Linked DNA regions of Homo sapiens: region 1 is linked to region 2. Evidence: fine-mapped expression QTL. A gene starts in region 2. The other region holds a variant in brackets. All regions are shown on one strand. Distances are from middle to middle. Region 1 overlaps LINC02028 (long intergenic non-protein coding RNA 2028). Region 2 holds the start of LINC02028 (long intergenic non-protein coding RNA 2028).

Region 1 (2,906 bases), 60 kb after region 2:
AGAATGTCTCTCAGTTTGGTTTTGTCGAATGTTTTCTCCTGATTAGATTGAGAGGTGTATTTTTGACAAGATATTTACATCTGATCAGGTGGTGCATGATTTCTACTTGACCCATTATTGGTGATGTTCACTGTAGGTTTTTTTTGGTTTTGCTTTTTTTTTTTTTTTTTTTGAGACTGGGTCCACTCTGTCACCTAGGCTAGAGTGCAGTGCCATGATCTCGGCTCCCTACAGCCTCGACCTCCCAGGCTCAGGTGATCCTCCTACCTCAGCCTCCCAAGTAGCTGGGGCTACAGGTACACGCCACCACACCTAGGTAACTTTTTGTATTTCTGTAGAGATGGGGCTTTGCCATATCACCCAGGCTGGTCTCAAACTCCTGGGCTCAAGTGCCCCACAAGTCTTGGCCTCCCAAAGTGCTGAAATTGCAGGCATGAGCCACCGCGCCCAGCCAATGTTCACTTTGATTATTCAGTTGAGGTGGTATTTGTCAGGACTATTCATTGTAAAATTACTCTTTTTCCCTTTGTCGTTAATAAGAATTTGGCTGGAGGTACTCTGAAAGTATGAAATTTCCCCATTTCTTAGTAAACATTCACCCACTAGTTCTAACATCTACTGATGTTTCTTGGCTGAATATCACTATGATGATTGCTAAATGGTGATTCTAATTCCATTATGTCTACTTTTACCAGTTGTCATTTTACTATAAAGACAGCTTTCTCTTCTTTCTGTGTATTTGTTTGTATCAGTGTGGATTTACAGATTTCTATTTTACTCAAAAGTTACAACTATTATCATTATTACTTATTTTGATAAATAAATTGTCCCAGGTTTGACCAGCAGGCGCCCTTTCAAGCCAGTTTCTATGTCTTTGTAACATGCTCTCACCATTCGTTGAGAGGCTGTGAGTCTTTGGAGTGGTAGTTCTGCCAAGCTCAACGAAAAGAGATCTCAGAGTCTAAAGACCTGGGTTGTGGTCTTCTTGGCTTCTTCCATTCCTAGTTGGGTATCACTGGGGGAGTGGTCCTTCTGTTCTAAGGTTTAAAATGGGGATAATCAGTCGCTACTGCCATCTAAAGTGGTTGCTGTGAAATTCATCCCAAAGGGAGAGATTTTAAGATAGCCAACTTCCCTTCCTAGAATCTTTCCAGAATTATTCTGTGCACTGATATTGCATGATGGCCCAATCAGCTGATGAGGTGCCGCTTGAAACATCTGTCTGCCTGTATTGTTTGTGGCCTGTGAGAGTTATTTGTTTCAATCAAATAAACATATGCTTAGCTTAAACGGCTTTTCCCTCTC[A/C]TAGGTATTTGATGCAATGCAGACTGGAATCCTCCCCACAAGGATGCCCTGGCCTGAGTGGCACAGAGATCAATGCAGCAGTCATTTCCTGGGCGGGGAAAGCCCATCCACAGTGGCCCTGGAATGATGCTGGTCTTACCTTCTATTCCTAGGAAGGCCCTATCTCAAGTGGCTCTGGTCCATGCAAACAGATGGAAACGGGTGTGGGGAAGCACAGGCCTCCTACTCATGTTAAGAGAGCTGCTCAGAGGCAGGAATCCAGAACCAGGAATGTCCCCAGTGGCTGCCCAAGGTACAAGTGGCAGGCAGCGGGGAGAATGGCATGTGAAGTCATTTGTAACCTGGCCCCAGCTTGGTTTCCAAGTCTCAGAGGAGATTATGGATATGGTAGTGCCTGGCTCAGTGCTTAAAATCCATTCTCCTGCTATTTCCCTCACCTACACTCAGCCCCACAAGCCGAGATGTTTGCTGGACATTTCAGGCACTGCCACCCAGTTCTGTCTACCTTACCTGCTAACACCTGTTGACCATCCTTCATGTGAAGGCTTCCCCAAATACTTCCCAATCAAAACACTAAAAGGCAGACCTGAAATTAATAAAAATGTTAATTAAATCTGTACAACAGAAAGCATAATGCCAGTCTTTTTAATTATGAAATGTAGCATTCATATAAATTTCATTGCTTTTGAAAACAATCTATGGCTAGATTCTCCTGGGTTTGTATGATGATTACTGAAAACTGTAGAAAATCTAAAATCAAGCAAGTTGTTTATAGGCAATTACTTTCAGAAGCAAAAATTATAAAAGAACCATGAGATTTTTAAAGAGAAAAAATTACATTTGATATGAGATAATCATGCATTTTAAGATGTTTAAAATGACATGGAGTGGGGTCCCCAGACCAGGAGAGCTGAGGGCTTATGAAGGACCTAAGGGAGTGAGACCTGTTATGTAATAAGCCCCCATTCTGGGGGCAGCACCACAGAGGCGGGACCCCAGAAGTAGAAGAAGAGCCCTCCTGCACTGGGTGGTGAAGTTGGTATCAGCCCCTAGTTTGTGACCCTGGACAGATTTCTCTGCTCTCCAGCCCTCAGAGTCCTCAATAAAACAAAAACATATGCAAATATACAAAATTCCTTGCTCTCTTGTACCTCTGAAAACTCTCCCTGAAGAAGTTGAACTACCTGCTCTCTCTCTGTCCTGAAGACTCTAAAATTCTATATGTCGTCCCCTGAGCTTTGACTCCAGGAGCTGTTTATTTTGAGACTCACTTTCTGCATAGTCCATAATCACGGATTCAGCCTCTCTCACTGCTGCTGTCTCCCCTGGAGAGGAAGTGGAGCAGTCAGGTTTTGTGAGCTGGCATTCTCCCTCCCTTTGAACGTAATTGCGGCCCTGCCCTGGGGACTGGATAGAGAGAAAGGTAGGCTTTTTCCCCAGTCCATTAGTATACTGGTTTGTAGCTCTTGCCTTTAGGAAGTATATCAAAGAGAGGAAGAAATGAAGAAAAGTTATTTTGCAAAAGTGAAATTATTAGTTTTATATGGTCGCTGTAACAAATTACCACAAATTGAGTGGCTTAAAACAGCAGAATTTATTCT
Region 2 (2,906 bases):
ATCAAGGTTTCCACTGCTCATCAGTAAACAGAGAGTTGTGGGAAGGAGTCCCGCCAGAGATTGGCAAACGCCCTCATCACCGACTCAGAGGCAAATGGCTGATCTCTGACCACAGGTGATGCTCACTCACACCAGGCTCTGGGCTGGAGTCGAGGCATAAGCACTGCCTTGACTCCCGCCCGGCCTACCATGTCCAATGGTGGGAGGGGAGATGACGGGGATGTCCCCGCTTCCCCATTCCCCATCTCTTTGGCGGTTCCTATCTGAATCTAGAAGTGCAAAGCCACCCCTAGCAAGCTACTTCTCCTAGTCGCTTTCCTCCTTGTAAACTGGGGGTGCCAACATCCCCCCCTTACTTCAGGGGCCTTTCAAGAATGTACAGAGTGGCTGGGCGCGGTGACTCATGCCTGTAATCCCAGCACTTTGGGAGGCTGAGGTAGGCGAATCACCTGACAGGGTCAGGAGTTCTAGCCCAGCTTGGCCAACATGGCGAAACCCCGTCTCTACTAAAAATACAAAAATTAGCCGGGCGTGGTGGTGGGAGCCTGGCACGAGAATCGCTTGAACCTGGGAGGCAGAGGTTGCAGTGATCACGCCACTGCACTCCAGCCTGGGCGACAGAGAGACTCTGTCTCAAAGAAACACCACCAAAGAATGTACGGAGTGGGAGTCAGGAGCTTTGGAAAGCGTATTGGCCAGTTGTTGCATAGGTGCGTTACGTGAGCGAGCCAAGAAGGGCTCCCTACAGCATGTGTGCGCGCGTCCATTCATTTGTTCGTTCATTCGTTCATTCATTCAGTAATTCATTCATGCATTCGACATTTATTCAGCACCTGGGTGAGACACACACTGAGATTCAATAAACTGCTGATCAAAGTTGTGTCTAGACGTCCAAGGGTTAAGCCGCCGGCGCGGGCCCCTCTGCGTCCCCCTCCGCCCCCGCCGGGCGTGGGGAAGGCGGGAAGGCGGCGCGGCGGGTGCCAAAGTCGGAACCTGCTCGTCGGCAGCTCCCGGCGCTGCCTTGACTCGCAGCCAGGCCTGGCGCGGCCGCCGGCTGTGGAATGTGTGAGCGCCATGTGTCACCGCCCCAGACTGTGGGAAAACGCTGCTCCGCTCACCTCCCAGCAGCTGCCCCGCGCCCGCCCGGGCGGGAGCCGGGAAACAGGAGCCGCCTGCCGCGGAGGCCGCCCGGGGGCACTTCCGAGCGCGCGCCGCCTGCCCGGCCGCCCCCGCGCCCGCCGCGTCTCCCCGCCCACACCCCGCTGCCACCCGGCCCCGGGCGCCACCCGCGGAGCAGGCGGCGGGAGGGACAGCCCGGCACGGCCCCTTTCCTGCCCTTCACACCCCTTCTGCTTCTCAGGGGACGCTGGTCCACAGACCGAGGCCCCGTTGCGCGCGGCCGCCTTCGGAGCGCCGCCCTCCTCCCGAAACCGGCCGGGGCGAGTGGCTGCAAGAAGCTGCGGTTTGGCCCGCGGGAGAGGGGGGCTTCCCCGCTGGGGTTGTCTGACGCGAACGCCTTCCTGGCCCCAGCCAGGCGCCCTGAGGTCAGGCCCAGTGGTGAGAGAGCTCTGAACGGGAGGCCCCACGCTGCCTGCTCCCCCAAATCAGAAACAGCCTCCCCCACCGGGGCGAGGCAAGGGATCTGCACCACCCCACGCGCTCCCGCCTGCACGGTAGCCTAGAGCCTGGTGTGAGCGGGAATCACATGTGCTCACACATCACCCAGGCAAGGTCTTTGAAGCCCAGCCATGCGGGCAGACGTATTCAAGGTCACCCTGCTGGGTGGCGGCAGAGCTCCTGTTGGAATCCACGCTCAGAGGACCTTCTGCCGAGCCCCAGCCCCAAAGGCATGGCGCCCTTTCTCTGCAGCATGGTGCCCCTCGTCGAGTTCCTGCCCCATAGAGAAGTTGGGAATGGGGCAGACGGGGGTGGGGGGAAATCATGGGTCCTGGGACCCCGACAGCTTTGCCTAAACTCAGCCTCATGCTGCGAGACGTCCCAGTCCGTCACCTCAGCCTGATTTTCTGGGGGTGCCCCACCTGACAGGCCTGGTAGTGAAGCCCCCATTGTATCCAGCCCTCTACGAGCACCTGGCATTTGTGTGCCTTGTTCCGGCTTGCCACCTCCTCTGTGGAAGTCTTCCCAGATTTGCCCAATCATTGCTTCCCGGTTCTCCGGCGGCCTTTGACAAACGCCTGTTTATGACGTTTGTGGCCCCCTGTAACTCATGGCCTACCTGTCCTCTCCTCCCTTCCGGAGTTTCCTGAGGGCAGAGACTGTGTTGCCCTCCTTTTTGATTTCCACACAAATGATTATTTGAGAACTCTGCTTATGGCAGCTGCTCTGTTTGTTGGCTGAATGTTATGCAATTTACCACTGGCTAGGAATCTCACCAGATGTGTGACCTTGGGCAAGTTGCTTAATCTAAGCTTCGGTTTTCTCATCTGTAAAATGGAGATCAACTGATACTGCGTCTAAAGTGACTTGTATAGTGGCTGGCACAAAGCAGATGCTGTGTGTGTGTATGAATGATTGCTAAAATACCATAGACTGGTGGCTTAAACAATAGTCATTTATTTTCTCCTGGCTCTGGAGGCTGGGAGATCCAAGATCAAGATGATGGCGAATTAGGTTGTTAGTGAGGGTGCTCTTCCTGGCTTGCAGAAGGCTGTCTGCTCACTGTGTCGTCATGTGACCACAGAGAGAGAGCAAGTCTGTTCTTATGAAGACACCAATCCTATCAGATTAGGGCCCCACCCTTATGATCTCAGTTAACCTTAATTACTTCTATAAAGGCCAGGTCTCCAAATACAGTCACACGGGGAGCTAGGGCTTCAACCTATGGCTTTTGGGGGATACAGTTCAGTCCATAGCAGTGGGGAAAGGATGTGACTCAGTCTAGAGAG

The links. PIP is the estimated chance that this variant, and not a neighbour inherited with it, causes the effect.
Region 1: its variant is fine-mapped to the expression of LINC02028 in nucleus accumbens (GTEx, PIP above 0.99). The same link has a PIP of 0.9 or more in anterior cingulate cortex, caudate, nasal epithelium, substantia nigra and thyroid.

Annotation. Positions count from the first base shown.
Region 1 is chr3:194,008,981-194,011,886 of GRCh38, reverse strand. The region is part of intron 2 of LINC02028 (long intergenic non-protein coding RNA 2028); the gene reads left to right. Among named protein-coding and RNA genes, the nearest start is that of LINC02026, 6.8 kb to the right of the region's middle. The variant A/C (reference allele first, on the strand shown) is at 1,306.
Region 2 is chr3:194,069,460-194,072,365 of GRCh38, reverse strand. It overlaps LINC02028 (long intergenic non-protein coding RNA 2028), which reads left to right and starts at 1,396. Exons shown (of 3, transcript NR_136179.1): 1 at 1,396-1,544. It overlaps LOC102724877, which reads right to left and starts at 2,277. Exons shown (of 6, transcript XR_002959666.2): 1 at 2,091-2,277. RefSeq lists a silencer at 1,199-1,378.